2 linked regions of the Homo sapiens genome follow. The protein of the gene in region 1 purifies or fractionates together with the protein of each later gene. This does not show direct contact. Each region holds a gene or a part of one and is shown in the gene's direction. Other genes may lie near its edges. The genes, in order: HEXA and DHRS4.

Evidence for each region.
Region 2: the proteins of HEXA (region 1) and DHRS4 purify together in Homo sapiens (affinity purification with mass spectrometry; 2 studies listed by BioGRID and IntAct, with this or other methods). This does not show direct contact.

Annotation. Positions count from the first base shown.
Region 1 is NC_000015.10:72,343,512-72,352,541, reverse strand, and holds part of HEXA (beta-hexosaminidase subunit alpha isoform 2 preproprotein), read left to right. Parts: intron 1-1,307; coding exon 1,308-1,409; intron 1,410-1,891; coding exon 1,892-2,024; intron 2,025-3,282; coding exon 3,283-3,463; intron 3,464-4,407; coding exon 4,408-4,494; intron 4,495-4,783; coding exon 4,784-4,856; intron 4,857-5,831; coding exon 5,832-6,015; intron 6,016-6,216; coding exon 6,217-6,307; intron 6,308-6,991; coding exon 6,992-7,096; exon of another isoform or gene 7,097-7,313; intron 7,314-8,401; coding exon 8,402-8,465; 3' UTR 8,466-9,030. UniProt on the Homo sapiens protein: Hydrolyzes the non-reducing end N-acetyl-D-hexosamine and/or sulfated N-acetyl-D-hexosamine of glycoconjugates, such as the oligosaccharide moieties from proteins and neutral glycolipids, or from certain mucopolysaccharides.
Region 2 is NC_000014.9:23,961,740-23,969,779, forward strand, and holds the end of DHRS4 (dehydrogenase/reductase SDR family member 4), read left to right. Parts: intron 1-2,838; coding exon of another isoform or gene 2,839-2,859; exon of another isoform or gene 2,860-4,022; coding exon 4,023-4,093; exon of another isoform or gene 4,094-4,192; coding exon 4,193-4,244; exon of another isoform or gene 4,245-4,543; coding exon 4,544-4,678; exon of another isoform or gene 4,679-4,966; intron 4,967-5,070; exon of another isoform or gene 5,071-5,332; intron 5,333-5,471; coding exon 5,472-5,527; coding exon of another isoform or gene 5,528-5,531; exon of another isoform or gene 5,532-5,944; intron 5,945-7,017; coding exon 7,018-7,132; 3' UTR 7,133-7,540; downstream 7,541-8,040. UniProt on the Homo sapiens protein: NADPH-dependent oxidoreductase which catalyzes the reduction of a variety of compounds bearing carbonyl groups including ketosteroids, alpha-dicarbonyl compounds, aldehydes, aromatic ketones and quinones.

The DNA of each region.
Region 1 (9,030 bases):
CCAGGGATACAAATGTTTAGGGGAATTGGCTTCATTGGCAGAGCTAACTATATTTGTTTTTGAGACAGCGTCTCAATTTTTTTTTTTTTTTTTTGTATTTTTTGTAGAGCTGGGGTTTCGTCATGTTACCCAGGCTGGTCTTGAACTCCTGGGCTCAAGCAATCTGCCCACCTTGGCCTGCCAGAGTGGTAGAATTACAGGCATGAGTCACTACACCTGGCCGGCAGAGCTAACTTTAGTTAGAACAAGGTCATAGGAGAGAGACGTTCAAAGCCTTAACTTGGGGCCAGGTGCAGTGGCTCACACCTGTAATCCTAGCACTCTGGGAGGCCAAGGCGGGTGGATTGCCCGAGCTCAGGAGTTTGAGACTAACCTGGCCAAGACGGTGAAACCCCATCTCTACTGAAAATACAAAAAATTAGCCAGGCGCGATGGCGCAAACCTGTAGTCCCAGCTACTCAGGAGTCTGTGATGGGAGAATCACCTGAGCCTGGGGAGATCAAGGATGCATGAACTGTGATTGCACCACTGCACTCCAGCCTGGACAACAGAGACCCTGTCTCAAAAATAAATAAATAAATAAATAAGTGAAGGAAGGAAGGAGGCTGAGGCATGAGAAGCACTTGAACCTGGGAGGTGGAGGTTGCAGTGAGCTGAGATTGTGCCACTGCACTCCAGCCTGGGTGACACAGCAAGACTCTGTCTCAAAAAAAAAAAAAAAAAAAAAAAAAGCCTTTCCTGGGGAAGTTCCTAACTCTCTTGAGTTTAATGTGCAGTCTTATCTGACAGTTCCCAATCCAGTTCCTGTGTCTGCCTTTTCCTTTGCTCCTGTGACGGAACCAAAGGAGGCCACACATCTGCCAGCCTTTGCTTCTGAGATTATGAGTTAAGAGGCTACTAAGTTCCCAGGAGGTCTCACAGTTGGGCTTAACATCAGTCAGACAACCGAACACAAATGGCAAGAGGAAGTATTGATCTTCAGGCTTTTGGAAGATTCCAGGCTACCACAGTAGCTGCAGCCCTCCTCTTAATGTGGCCAGAATTTATTTCAAGAAGAGGAAAGACCACTTCTATCATCCATCTTTGGATGTGTTCTGGGAAAAGTAGAAGTGTGCTGGGCCTTCCCTCCATGCCATCCCTCCCTGATGGGAAGGTTTGATAGACCCCATAAATACTTAATTGAGAGCTGAGGCAGGTCAAGCCTGTAGGGGTGTGTGGAGCGGCCTGAGAGCTCGCCCAACATCGCAAGTTTGAGGCTGAAACCGGAGAGACTGTGATGGGTTCACAGTGTGCACTTTAACCTACAGGATGTCATGGCGTACAATAAATTGAACGTGTTCCACTGGCATCTGGTAGATGATCCTTCCTTCCCATATGAGAGCTTCACTTTTCCAGAGCTCATGAGAAAGGTATGTTCCCGTTTCACTCAGACCAAGTTTATGGGTCAATGTCTGAATCTGGCTGTGGCCCTGCTGGCAAGAACAGGGTCTCTCATCCTAACCAGCCAGTTTTAGACCAATATAGGGGAAGGACACTGGATTTGGAGTCAGGAGACTTGAGTTCAAGTCCAAAACTTTGCCGATAATTTGCCTTGTGACCTTCAGGAGAGAATCTCTTCTGGCCTTATTCCCTTTTTATGTATTTATATTCTGTTAAATGGACATAGTATTAATACCTACCATGATTATCTCACTGGCATTATGATACTCAGATAAAACAGATGTGATAACTTCTGGGAAATTATGATCAAGTTTTTTGAAGATAGTCCCTGACACCAAAGGGCTATGGGCAGGTTTTCTGATATCTGGGGAGTCTTGTGGGCATTTTGAGTATCTTCTACTCTGCTAGCTTTCAGGAAGTGTGAACCTGAAGGGTGTCTTGTGCCTTTCAGGGGTCCTACAACCCTGTCACCCACATCTACACAGCACAGGATGTGAAGGAGGTCATTGAATACGCACGGCTCCGGGGTATCCGTGTGCTTGCAGAGTTTGACACTCCTGGCCACACTTTGTCCTGGGGACCAGGTAAGAATGATGTCTGGGACCAGAGGGACTCTGCTTGTTATGCTCAGAGTGAAGCTTCAGGGCACTGGCTCATGGAAGTGGCATATCCCAGCCTTGGTCCTTAGAAGAATGTTTTCCATCGACTTCTTCCACCTGGGAATTTAGATAGGAAGAACTCACTTTGGACAATGGAGGCTGCTTCTTACTATTAAAATATGTACTGTTAGACTATGTAAGGGCACATTTTTCTCAGATGCCGTTGCAGGTAGTTGTGCCTAGAGTGGATGCTGAGGAATCTGACCACCAGGGTAGAATCTGAAAGAAAGAAGCCCAAGGGCAGCCTGCAGAGGTCAGAGTCAGTCAGTACCCCTGCTCCCTTTCTTCTGTATACCCTCAGCCCTCCAGTGTGAGCCCCCAACACAGGTTAAATGACAGTTGAAAAGGGCTACTGGCCTGATAGAAAACTGAAGATATTGGCCGGGCGTGGTGGCTCATGTCTGTAATCCCACCACTTTTGGAGGCCAAGGCGGGTGGATCACCTGAGGTCAGGAGTTCAAGACCAGCCTGGCCAACATGGTGAAACTCCATCTCTACTAAAAATACAAAAATTAGCCAGGCGTGGTGGCAGGCGCCTGTAATCCCAGCTACTCGGGAGGCTGAGGCAGGAGAATCGCTTGAACCCAGGAGGCAGAGGTTGCAGTGAGCCAAGATCATGCCACTGTACTCCAGCCTGGGCGACAGAGCAAGACTCTGTCTCAAAAACAAACAAACAACAACAACCAAAAAAAAACCCTGAAGATATCTTGTGACCTCAGCGTCAGGAAGTAGTCTCTGGGCCAAGGGAGATATCCCTTAGCAAATGTAAAAAGATTCTGGGTGATGGTTGACCCCACCTACAGGAGGAGATAGAGAAGAAAGATTTTGCCAGTTTGGCTGGATTAGGCTCTCTCTCTGCCTCAAGGCCTGTGAGGAGAGCAGCCTTGGGAGCAAGGGTAGCACCTGCTAGAAGCAGTGTGTCCAGGCAAGAGTGTGCGCACTGACAGTTGTCTGGCTGGAACTTAGCCTCTGCCTATGATTGTGGATATATTTGTATCTTTTTACTGTGACTAAATGGTGGTGACTACCAGTGTCTGTGAGTGCCTAAGTGTGCCTACCTAAATGTGTGTGATGTTTATGAATACACTTGTCTTGCTTTGTGTGACTCGTGTCCTTACGTGTAGGACTGTGCGTGGGGGTTTATGTATTTGTGACACTCATATGGGGTTTTCTCTTGGCTTAGGTATCCCTGGATTACTGACTCCTTGCTACTCTGGGTCTGAGCCCTCTGGCACCTTTGGACCAGTGAATCCCAGTCTCAATAATACCTATGAGTTCATGAGCACATTCTTCTTAGAAGTCAGCTCTGTCTTCCCAGATTTTTATCTTCATCTTGGAGGAGATGAGGTTGATTTCACCTGCTGGTATGAGCCCTTTGATCTTCCCACTGTGGCCTGATCAGTTGCTTACTCAGAATAGAAGTTAGCACCCGAGGGGCTGCTTAGCTCAGCTGCTGCTCTCAGGGGTCTGTATGGGCTCACATTGCTCAGGTCTTAGGCCTTCCTCTGCCCATCTACGTAGAGATCCTACCTGATTTTGGCAAGGCTTTCACTGTGAACCTCTTCCTTCCTACTCTCATATCCTTGAGGTATTGATAGAAAAAACAGCCCTGGGCACAGAATTGTCTTGGAAAAGTTCGGGATAGAGAAAAATAATCCCTGTTTATGAAGGCTTAAAATTGTCTAGTTGAAGAGTCAAGACACAGAATTCAAGACTAATAGGTGACAATGTCTAATTAGTATTCAGTTGTAAAGTCCAAACCCTTGGTTCTAGTAAGCTCAAAAGAGGCTGAGGGGCTTCTTTGAGAAGAGGGCGCTAGAGCTGAATCTGGGGAAATCAATTTGGCTTTTTGGAGATGTGAGCAGGGGAAAATATTCCAGAAGGAGAACAATGTGAGCAAAATGTGGACGTCATAACGCAAGGGATCTGCAGCAGGTGTTAGACAGCAAGGCTTGTCATCCAACTGGAAGAGCAGATAGGAAAGCCGAAATCCAGTGTGCTGGAGCTTCAAGTTAAGACCTTGGATTCTCATGTTGCAGTCCAGAGAGGATTAATATGTTTTCTCTTTGGGAGTTTGAACTTAAAACTCTTCAGGTCCAGACTCAGCCTTTCTCAGCCTGTGTCAACAGCCCACCTGCTTCACATAACTTTGCTTGGCCACACTTTCCACATGTAGGGCTTCTGAGATCCTTGCTTATTTGATTTTTCAGGTGAAAAGAGGAAGTTATAGGGGGCCAGGTGACTAATCCCCAGGCATTAGGCTTTCAGGATGTTGAAAGATTAATCTTCATTTTCTCTTGGGATTCAGGAAGTCCAACCCAGAGATCCAGGACTTTATGAGGAAGAAAGGCTTCGGTGAGGACTTCAAGCAGCTGGAGTCCTTCTACATCCAGACGTGAGGAAGGAAGGAGGGTGGGTGGGGTCCCTTGGGGGTCCTCCTGTGGGGTCCTCCCTTTCCATACCGAGTCAGGCCCTGCTTGGCCACTGTCTGGTCCCTGCAGGGTTCCCTTGTCCTTTGTCCCATCCTTTCAGATTTGGAGTGGTTGGTTTTCAGCCCAGGGGAAAGACACTGCTTAATGAGGAATAGGCCCCTGGCCAGGCTCAACCCCTAGAGCACTGGCACAAACAGTCTAGAACCCATCTGAGCTAAGCAGACACTTACTAGACACTCCTCTCCTCTCCAGGCTGCTGGACATCGTCTCTTCTTATGGCAAGGGCTATGTGGTGTGGCAGGAGGTGTTTGATAATAAAGTAAAGGTGAGCCGGGGCAGAGAAGAGAAGAAGCCACCAGCAGTGCCTCCCTCTGGTCTCCCCAGCTCCTCCCTGCCTCTACAGAGACTGATCCTCCTGGTTTGGATTGGGCTTTAATGGTCGGAGCACTCTCCTTTTCTCTCTAGAAAGGCCACAGAGTGCTGGGTGCAGTGGCTCACGCCTGTAATCCAAGCACTTTGGTAGGCCAAGGCAGGGGGATTGCTTGAGCCTAGGAGTTCAAGACCAGCCTGGCCAACATAGCAAAACCCTCATCTCTACAAAAAATACAAAAATCAGGAGGCTGAGGTTGGGGTACTGCTTGAGCCCAGGAGGCAGAGGTTGCTGTGAGCCAAGATGTGCCTCTGCACTCAACCCTGGGCAACAGAGTGAGACCCTGCCTCAAAAAAACCAAAGGCCGCTGTGGTATGAGCCCTGGGTTTATGTGTCAGAGTTTCTATCTTCCCTCACTACAAACTTAATTAAGAACTATTTCTGCTGTTAGGTTACTTGGATAGGCTGGATTTTTCTTCCTAAATCATAGATGAGGGTCTTCTGGGTCTGTGGGACCAAGGTTACCTTCTCCTTTATTGTTGATCAGTAAGATCCCAGTCTCCTGTCACATGCAAGGACTCTTCAGGAACCTTGTCCCGTCCCCAGAAACATCTGGAGACTTTTGGACATGGCAGCTCCTGGGTCCCACTGCTTGCCTCCCTCAGCTCACAGCTGGTATTACTAGCTCTGTGTGGACAGGGAGGCTGCAGAGGGACGGGGAGGAGAGCTGCAGGGAGGCCTCTTAGGGCCCTGGATTCCTTGGCCTCTGTCCTGAGGTGTGAGCTCAATGGTCAGGAGTCACAGAGACATACTTTGCTGCTGGGGAACAGAGGGAGCACATACCTGTTGTCCCATGTTGCCTGTGTATGAATAAGGCCCAGGAATCTCCTCAGCTTTGTGTCCTTACTGCCATTTGACCTTTTATAACAGATTCAGCCAGACACAATCATACAGGTGTGGCGAGAGGATATTCCAGTGAACTATATGAAGGAGCTGGAACTGGTCACCAAGGCCGGCTTCCGGGCCCTTCTCTCTGCCCCCTGGTACCTGAACCGTATATCCTATGGCCCTGACTGGAAGGATTTCTACATAGTGGAACCCCTGGCATTTGAAGGTGAAAGCAGAGAGCTCTCCTTGCTAACCAAAGGAGGCTGGGTTGGGGCACAGGATGGGAGGCAGGAAGGTCTGGGCCAGACATTTCCAGTTAGTAAATGAAACAACTTAGCTGGGGTGAGGGCCACATTGGGAAGGTGGTTGAGAGGGACCCTGGAGTTACCCCACCATCACCAGACTGTTGTTGCTTGTTTTCCCTCAGGTACCCCTGAGCAGAAGGCTCTGGTGATTGGTGGAGAGGCTTGTATGTGGGGAGAATATGTGGACAACACAAACCTGGTCCCCAGGCTCTGGTAAGGGTTTTCGGGGGGGAGGTGGAGGGTTGGGCCTGAGAGCAGGAGTTCTCCCTTAGAGACCCAATCCCATCTAGCCACCTCTGGACTAGTACCCTTCTTTCAGGCCTGAGAGAGAGCAGGCCGTGCAACGAGCCTTCTGAAGATTTGTGTGCAATATTCACTCTCCACATGACTTCCGTCTATATCCCTCCAGCTGCCCTTTGGTATGTGGGATAGGGATTGTTAACCTTACTTCCCAGAGAGATAATGAGGCCTGGAGAACATAGGTGAGTTGCTCAAGACCCAGCACAAGCATCCATGATTCCTGTAATAAGGCTTCCCTCTGCTGTTTTCACTGCAGCCTTACCAAGTATGGTTGGGTGTGCAAAGTTTACATTTTAAGGACCTCTGCTGCTGCCACTGTCATTGTGGTTAATGATGGCTTTAAGGTTTATTCTTATTCCCATATCTTTGAGAGAGGAAGAGAGTGGGATTGCTACCCACATTTTAATGAAGGTGGAGCTGAGCCGTAGAACTCTCTGGGAGCCATCCAACCTGGCTGTGGCTCATAACAAGGTATTGATCACTTCCTTTGGCCTGAGTGAGTCCAGGGTGCCTAGACAAGAGGTAGCAGCCTGTGGATGTCCAGCACCTTTGCAGGGAATACAGGGCCCAATCTGGCACATGCCCCTTTTCCTCCAGGCCCAGAGCAGGGGCTGTTGCCGAAAGGCTGTGGAGCAACAAGTTGACATCTGACCTGACATTTGCCTATGAACGTTTGTCACACTTCCGCTGTGAATTGCTGAGGTAAGCAAGCTGTGGGGCCTTCGCAAGGCGGAGCAGGCCAGATCCAGGGCTGGGGAACCCCTTAGAGAGAGGAAGACAATAATTAACAATAGCTAACACTTACAGAGGCTTATAGTCAGCCCTCATCCACGGATTCAACCAACTGCGATAAAAAGTATTCAGGAAAAAAAAAATACAACAAAAAATGGTACAAATAAAAAATACTGTATAACAACTATTTACATAGCATTTATATTGTATTAGGTATAAGTAATCTAAGATCATTTCAAGTATATGGGAAGTTGTACATTGGTTATATGCAAATACTATGTCATTTTTATATAAGGGACTTGAGCATCCTTGGATTTTGGTATCCACGGGGGTCCTGAAACAAATCCCCTGTGGATACTGAGGGACAACTGTATTTTGTGGCAAACACTGTGCTAAGTTTGTTACAAATATTGTCTCATTTAGTCTTCACCACAGCCCCATGAGACAGGTGCATTTTAGAGATAGACACTGAAGCACAGAGTTCAGGACCTTGCCCAAAGTCACTAAGAAGCAGGATTTGAACCAGGCTGACTTACAGGATGTCATGACACCTTTGCCTCTGTCAGGGATGTGCCTGTGTAAGATAGTCATTTCCCTGATTCCTTCGTTGGCTAGGTCTTGAGTACTTGGGGGACATAGCCTAGTGCAGAGCAGAGTCCTGGGCTGAGAGTCAAGCATGATGGTGTCTAAGCCTCAATTATGTCATTCACTGGGTAACTTCCAGCTGGTTCTCTAAGCATGTTGCTTACTTGGATGATAAGGGAAGCATGCCTAGAGGTCCCCTAAGGAGATTGGTCAGGTTATAGACTGAGACCCAAGGACAGGATTTCGCATCCATGTTCATGGACAGGACAGCACCTAAGTCCCCCAGTGCCACCATATTTACAGCATTTTAGAGTCAGGAACAGAGGGCTAAGTAGACCAAGAGCATTGGCTGCCTTTCAGACATCCATCTATATTCTAAAGGGATTGAGTTATTTGGGGTTAGGGTACAGAGATGGGCAGGATATAAATAGATGTCGCCAACGTTTCTGGATCTCCAAGACCTGTATCAGAATCACCTGAGGCACCTGTTCAGCTTGCAGATTCTTGCCAATACTTTGCCCCACCCCAGGTGAGAATCTCTGGAATTGAGATTCCCAGGTGCATTTGGTGTACAGTGACAGTTTGAGAGTCACCGAAATGGGGAAGGAGAGACTGTTGACTGGTGTGAAAAGTGTTGCTGGGGCCCCTTCTGAGGGGCTTATCTTGCCATTTCTTCATGTCCTCTTGCAGGCGAGGTGTCCAGGCCCAACCCCTCAATGTAGGCTTCTGTGAGCAGGAGTTTGAACAGACCTGAGCCCCAGGCACCGAGGAGGGTGCTGGCTGTAGGTGAATGGTAGTGGAGCCAGGCTTCCACTGCATCCTGGCCAGGGGACGGAGCCCCTTGCCTTCGTGCCCCTTGCCTGCGTGCCCCTGTGCTTGGAGAGAAAGGGGCCGGTGCTGGCGCTCGCATTCAATAAAGAGTAATGTGGCATTTTTCTATAATAAACATGGATTACCTGTGTTTAAAAAAAAAAGTGTGAATGGCGTTAGGGTAAGGGCACAGCCAGGCTGGAGTCAGTGTCTGCCCCTGAGGTCTTTTAAGTTGAGGGCTGGGAATGAAACCTATAGCCTTTGTGCTGTTCTGCCTTGCCTGTGAGCTATGTCACTCCCCTCCCACTCCTGACCATATTCCAGACACCTGCCCTAATCCTCAGCCTGCTCACTTCACTTCTGCATTATATCTCCAAGGCGTTGGTATATGGAAAAAGATGTAGGGGCTTGGAGGTGTTCTGGACAGTGGGGAGGGCTCCAGACCCAACCTGGTCACAGAAGAGCCTCTCCCCCATGCATACTCATCCACCTCCCTCCCCTAGAGCTAT
Region 2 (8,040 bases), on another chromosome or scaffold:
TGGCCTCAACTGATCCCCACACCTCAGCCCCCCAAAATATTGGGATTGCAGGCATGAGCCACCACACACAGCCAGATTCTGATAGTCTTTAAAATAGAGGAGCATCATTCATGAACAGTCTGAATAGAGACCATATGAAAGTCAGTTTTAAACTAAGTACAGGCACGCCTCAGAGATATTGTGGGTCTGGTTCCAGGCCACCACACAATAAAGTGAATATTATAATAAAGTGAGTCACATGAATTTTTTGGTTTCCCAGTGCATATAAAAGTTAGGTTTACATTATAATGATCATCTAATGGAAGTCTATTAACTGAGCAATAGCATTATGTTTTAAAATATATATACGTATCTTAATTTTAAAATACTTTATTGCTAAAAAAATGCTGACAATCATCTGAGCCTTTACAACTTGTAATCTTTTTGCTGGTGGAGGATCTTGCCTCAACATTGATGGTGGCTGACTTAGGGTGGTGTTGCTGAAGGCTGGGGTGGCTGTGGCAGTTTTTTCAAATAAGACAGCAGTGAAGTTTGCCACATCAGTTGACTCTTCCTTTCACAAGAGATTTCTCTGTAGCATGCAATCCTGTTTGATAGCATTTACCCACAGTAGAACTTCTTTCAAAATTGGAGTCAATCCTATCAAACTCTACCACTGCTTACTCTACTAAGTACCTATAATATTCTGAATCCCGTGTTGTGATTTCAACAATATTCATGGCATCTTCACCAGAAATAGATTCCATCCCAAGAAACCACTTTCTTTGCTTATCCGTAAGAACCAGCTCCTCAGCCATCTACATTTTATCGTGAGATTGTAGCAATTCAGTCCCATCTTCCAGCTCCGCTTCTAGTTCTCTTGCTATTTCCACCACATCTGCAGTTCCTTCCTCTGATGCAGTCTTGAACCCTTCCACGTCATCCATGAGGGTTGGAATCAACTTCTTCCAGACTCCTGTTAATGTAGATATTTTGACCTCCTCCCATGAATCACAAATATTCTTAATGGCATCTAAAATGGTGCATCCTTTACAGAAGGTTTTCAGTTAACTTTGCCGAGATCCATCAGAGGAATCACTATCCATGGCAGCTATAGCCTTACAAAATGTATTTCTTAAATAATAAGTCTTGGAAGTCAGAATTACCCCCGATCCATGGGCTGCAGAATGGATGTTGTGTTAGCAGGCATGAAAACAACATTAATCTCCTTGTACATCTCCATCAGAGCTTTTGAGTGACCAGGTGCATTGTCAATGAGCAGTAACAGTTTGAAAGGAATCTTTTTCTGAGCAGTAGCTATCAACGGTGAGCTTAAAATATTCAGTAAACCATGCTATAAACAGATGTGCTGTTATTCAGGCTTTGTTGTTCCATTTGCAGAGCACAGGCAGAGTAGATTTAGCGTAAATCTGAGGGCCCTAGAATTTTCAGAATGGTAAATGAGCATTGGCTTCAACTTAAAGTCACTGGCTGCATTAGCCCCTAACAAGAGAATAAGCCTGTCCTTTGAAGTTTTGAAGCCAGGCATTGACTTCTCCTCTCTAGCTATTAAAGCCCTACATGGCATCTTCTTCCACTAGAAGGTTGTTTCATCTACATTGAAAATCTGTTGTTTGCTGTAGCCACCTTCATCAATGATCTTAGCTAGATCTTCTGGATAACTGGCTGCAGCTTCTACATCAGCACTCGCTGCTTCATCTTGCACTTTTATGTTACAGAGGTGGCTTCTTAAACCTCATGAACCAACCACTGCTAGCTTCCAACTTTTCCGGAGCTTCTTCACCTCTCTCAGCCTTCAAAGAATTAAAAATTAGGGCCTTTTACTGATTAGGCTTTGGCTTAAGGGAATGTTGTGGCTAGTTTGATCTTCTGTCCAGAACATAAGAACTTTCTCTCCATATTAACAATAAACCTCTTTTGCTTTCTTATCATTTATATGTTCAGAGAAGTAGCACTTTTAATTTCCTTCAAGAATTTTTCCTTTGCATTCACAATTTGGCTAACTGGTGCACATGGTCTAACTTTCAGCCTGCCTCAGCTTTCAACATGCCTTCCTCACTAAGCTTAATTGTTTCTAGCTTTTGATTTAAAGTGAAAGATGTGTGACTCTTCCTTTTGCTTAAACACTTACAAGCCATTGTAGGGTTAATAGTTGGCCTAATTTCAATGTAAATGTGTCTCAGGGAATATGGAGGCCCACAGAGAGGGAGAGAGATGAGAGAAGGGCAGAGCAGTCAGAACACACAACATTTTTCGATTAAGTTGACCTTCTTTTCTGGGTGTGGTTTGTGGTACCCCAAAACAATTATAATAAAACCATGAAAGATCACTCATCACAGATCACCGTAACAGATACAATAATAATGGAAAGGTCTGAAATATTCCAAGAATTACCAAAATGTGACCCAGAGACAAAGTGAGCACATGCAATTGGAAAAATGGCTCGAATTAATGCAGGGTTGCCACGAAACTGCAATTTGTAAAAAAAAAAAAAAAAAAAAAAAAAAAAAAAAAACACAATATCTGCAAAGCATAAGAAAATATGTGTCTATAACTTTTCTTTTAATTTGTATATTTTTTAAACTATCACAGTATGACAAATCCAAACATAATGGCTGATCCTTGATTGAACTCTGGACTTTAAAAAACACACACACACATTTGGGGGATAATTGAGGCCAATATGTTAGATAAAATTATCATCATTGTCAAACTCTTGGTTGTGATAACAGATTATGGTTGTGTAAAAGAAAATCCTTACTCTTTGGAAATGTATGCTAAGTATTTGGGGATAGAACATTGTACTATCTGCAACTGAGTTTACTTATTTTATTTTAGGTTATTTATTTATTTTTGTGATGGAGCCTCACTCTGTTACCCAGGCTGGAGTGCAGTGGTGCTATCTCAGCTCACTGCAACCTCCACCTCCCGGGTTCAAGCTATTCTGCTGTCTCATCCTCCTGAGTAGCTTGGATTACAAACACATGCCACCACGTCTGGCTAATTTTTGTATTTTTAGTACAGACGAGGTTTGCCATGTTGCCCAGGCTGTTCTCGAACTCCTGACCTAAAAGTGATCCACCCATCTTGGCCTCCCGAAGTGCAGGGATTGCAGGCATGAGCCACCATGCCCAGCCCTGAGTTTGTTTTTTTTTTTTAATTTACATTTTTTTATTTTTGTTCTTTGTAATTTTTGATTTTATTATATAAAATCTTTCAGAAAACTTGCAACTGAGTTTCAATGGTTCATTTAAAAAACTGTACAGATCTACAGAGAGGACAAATAGGACAAAATGTGAACAATTGGTGAATCTAAGTGAAGGATATCTAGACATTCATTGTACTTCTATCTCCAATTTTTCTGTAAGATTGAAATATTTTAATATAAGCAGTTGTCTAGAACAGTGTAAACAGGGTCATACATTTGTTTTAGATTATGGATGTGGGGATTCTGATTGTAGCCTGTCCCCCAGCTTCCCCAGAAGGTGACTCCTCATGATCCCACTTTCTAACCATGCCTAGCCAGACAGTCCTTCCTAGAGGGCCAAGAACATCTCACTCCCTAAGCCCAGAAGCCAGAGAAGTGCTAGAACAACCCCACATATCCAAGGTCAGGCCACATTTTCCCTGAGAAGCATGGCCTACTCTAGGGCAGGTAGTCTAGGGCAGGTCCAGGAGGCTGACAATTCCAGGCTCTACCTACTTGGAAGAAACAGAGAAAACACAGCTCAAATCCAAAGGCCCCTTCTGGCCCAAATCATACTTGGCTGATTATGAAACAAGATGAACCAGGCTCCATTTTTGCTCACCTGAACCTAATGTATCAATATCTAGCTGAGCAGCTGGTGAGAGCTACTTCTCCCTGAACCTCAGTTCCTTCATGTGTAAGATGCAGGTATATCATCCTAAGATCTTCGTCAGCTCTGACAAACATCCTAGGAACCCACTCTAACTCCTCATTTTTTCATGCCTCCTCCAGTGCTCTTCACTCATGCTGTTTCCCCTTCTTCTCTTGGCTTCAGACTCTGGACATTAATGTGAAGGCCCCAGCCCTGATGACAAAGGCAGTGGTGCCAGAAATGGAGAAACGAGGGTACAGAGAGTGAGAGAGAGCCTGGGTGAGAGGGGACACCACACGGGCTGAGGGCACTGGTCCACAATGGGAAGATGGTCAGCTCTCTTCTTTTTCCAGAGGCGGCTCAGTGGTGATCGTGTCTTCCATAGCAGCCTTCAGTCCATCTCCTGTAAGAACCCTTTTGTCTACCTCTTCCATCCCACCCTCCACTCCACATCTTTCCACCCCTCCTATTACCCAAGGAAGTTTGTGTCCCCTTGTAGAATCACACCACCAAGTCCCTGCCCACAAAATAGATGCCTTGCCTCCACAAACCACAACCTAGGGGAGGTTTAGCCACAAGACAGTTCCCTAACTCTGCCCCTCCCTTACAGGAGATCCCTATTGAGCACTGCCCTCTATGTCTAGTTATTAGAACCAAGAATGACCTGGAAACTATGAGTCTAACACATTCTCTTCTTTCTCCAGGGCTTCAGTCCTTACAATGTCAGTAAAACAGCCTTGCTGGGCCTGACCAAGACCCTGGCCATAGAGCTGGCCCCAAGGAACATTAGGGTGAACTGCCTAGCACCTGGACTTATCAAGACTAGCTTCAGCAGGATGGTGAGGAAGGGGAGCTTTGCATTTGACTGGGACCCCTTGAAAGGCATCCATCTTCTTGGACAGGGAAGCCCACTACCTGAGTCCTGAGCTCTCAGCCACTCCATTCTCCTTCCCTGGACTTTCCCATATTCCCTCTCTGTACCACCTGCCCTATACAAGCCACACTCTTATCACACCTTTTCTGAGGTATAGGCTGGAGACTGAGGTATTCAGACTGTACTCACACTGTTTCCTCCCTCCTTACATGGATGAGAATTGGAGAGACGCAGCAAAATGCATCACTAGAACCTGAAACAAATGAAACAGATGAGGGCAGTGGGGAGAGCTGGGAGCTAGAAAAAAATAGGAAGTGAAAGAGGGAAGTCTCTCTCCCCATCCCTCCTCTCAGTTACCATGAGGATGGGCAGTTTCTTCCCTTTCCGTTCTTCACTTTCCTCTTCTTAAACATAAAGAGATTTCTGGGTGGGGTGGCTCATGCCTGTAATCCCAGCACATTGGGAGGCCGAGGCGGGCAGATCACGAGGTCAGGAGGTCGAGACCATCTTGGCTAACACGGTGAAACCCCGTCTCTACTAAAAATACAAAAAATTAGCCGGGCGCAGTGGCGAGCGCCTGTAATCCCAGCTACTCGGGAGGCTGAGGCAGGAGAATGGCATAACCCGGGAGGCGGAGTTTGCAGTGAGCCAAGATAGCGCCACTACAGTCCGGCCTGGGCAAAAGAGCAAGACTCCGTCTCTAAAAAGAAAAAGAAAAAGAAAAAAAAAACATAAAGAGATTTCCCTTCTTCCTGCAGCTCTGGATGGACAAGGAAAAAGAGGAAAGCATGAAAGAAACCCTGCGGATAAGAAGGTAAACTGTCATGAGGGCAAGGGCACTAAGAGACATGAAGATGGGAAGGTCTGGTCCCTAGCAGCCCACAGCCCGCTGTCTCAGTCCCACAGATAACACAGGCAGGCTCTCTTCTGCCTCACAGACCACGAATTCATAAACACTATCACTACAGTGACCTGAGCAAGAAGTCAGCTTCCCTTTCAAAAGGTAAACACAGAGACATCGGGGTTTCAGCAGTGCAGAGCTCTGGGAGAAGCCCTGAGTCCTCTCTCCACCTGGGGGATTGCCTCCACCTCTGAGCATCCATGGAGACCAGGGACCATAACCAAAACCATGCTTTGTTAGTCCCCTTGAATAATGACACATGTTTACAAAACTCAGGTTGATGATCTACAATCCAAATGAAAAGAATGAAGAGTTTTACTAAGCCCCAAACTCCCCTTGCCTAAGGAGTTACTTTCTTCCCCAGTGAGCTGGGTGAACTGTTCAAGCACCTTTGTCGGGCTCCCTTTCCTCTAAGTTCCCTGCCTCTCTCTACCTTCTGGCTTCAAGGACAAATGCCAGTAATGCCTAACTCTGTACTCGTCCAGACATCCCAAATCTTCCCAAAGCCATTCTGATGTGAGACATGAGCTGCAGGCCTGGTTCATAACTCATTAATAAGTGAGGGGATTGTCAACCTAGAGCACCAATGAATGATCTAGCCCATGTAGCTCAATACTGGATTCACATTAGAATCACCTGGGGAGCTTTTTAAACTGCAGGTGCTCAGGCCCCACCCACTCCCAGAGATTCTTTTTAATTGGTCCAAGGTAGGACTTGACCATCTGGGCTTTTGTTTTTCTTTGTCTTTTCTTTTCTTTTCTTTTTTGGTTTAAGCCTCTCAAATGATTGCAAGATACAAGTAGAATGGAGAAGCATTAATTCAGCCCTTCTAGGTTTGAGTTACTCACTCTGCCCACCTCTAGAGCATTCTATGGCAGGGAGATTAAAGTGTCTCCTAACTATGCAGTCACTGATAAAATAAGAATTAGCACATTCTCACTAAATGAACCTGACTTTAAGGCACAAGTATAGATTCCTGAAAAAGTTCTAAGCTGAACCTGTACAAATGGAATCATTTTAAACACACCATTTACTGTCACACAGACTCCCTGATACTTTAGTGTGTGCACATGTGAAACCATTTTTTTGAAGTATGAAATAATTGCTCACCATTTTATCTATATAACTTTGGATTTTGGTGTCCTGAGCTCTCTAAAAACCGGTGTGTTTCTATAGTATTTGAATATTATGGGTAATAGTTTTGCAGAGTACAGTATGCTTATACTAAATTATAACAGCATATCCTCGTGGTAACCCTATTTGATAGGCAGAAAGCTTGTACACTGACCCTGAAAAAGCCATCTGATAATTCTTGATTAAGCAAATTTAACTCCCTGTGTCCCAGGTGAGGGAGGCAGAACTGTTTGATTTTTACCTCCTTCCTTGCTTCCCTTATTCCCCAGGTTAGGCGAGCCAGAGGATTGTGCTGGCATCGTGTCTTTCCTGTGCTCTGAAGATGCCAGCTACATCACTGGGGAAACAGTGGTGGTGGGTGGAGGAACCCCGTCCCGCCTCTGAGGACCGGGAGACAGCCCACAGGCCAGAGTTGGGCTCTAGCTCCTGGTGCTGTTCCCGCATTCACCCACTGGCCTTTCCCACCTCTGCTCACCTTACTGTTCACCTCATCAAATCAGTTCTGCCCTGTGAAAAGATCCAGCCTTCCCTGCCGTCAAGGTGGCGTCTTACTCGGGATTTCTGCTGTTGTTGTGGCCTTGGGTAAAGGCCTCCCCTGAGAACACAGGACAGGCCTGCTGACAAGGCTGAGTCTACCTTGGCAAAGACCAAGATATTTTTTCCCGGGCCACTGGGGAATCTGAGGGGTGATGGGAGAGAAGGAACCTGGAGTGGAAGGAGCAGAGTTGCAAATTAACAACTTGCAAATGAGGTGCAAATAAAATGCAGATGATTGCGCGGCTTTGAATCCAATTGACCTGTTCATTTCTCAGTGTTGGGTGCTTAGCTGAGCAGAGAGCAGAAGTCTATTCAGGCTGGATCTCTGGATCCCCCAGCCCTCCTCCCTGTCTCCAGAACTTGAGCGTGATGTTCACGGGTGGAGGTGTCTGCAGAGCTGCCAGCTGGAAGGAAGGTGGCACGGGAACTCCCAGGACGCCACGGGAATCCCCGAGGCAGCGCGAGCCCGGAGAGAGTGGGGAAGGATGAACTCTCTAACACCTCCCCGCCCCTTGCCTCCCAGATCAGGCCAGGTCCTCTCCCCGCATGGCCCTACGACCCGAGTTCCCTCCCGAGTCAGCAAGTACAAGCTGGATGGGTCCTGAGCCGGTGGGGAATAGAGAAAGGCCCTGCAAGGTACCCAGGCCCACAAACAAAAGCAATGGGTTCTGCCCACGGGCCCGAGGATTCAGTAGAAGGAAAGTGGGGACGCTGTCCCCCGCCCCAAAGGCACTGACACTGGGCGACACACGCTG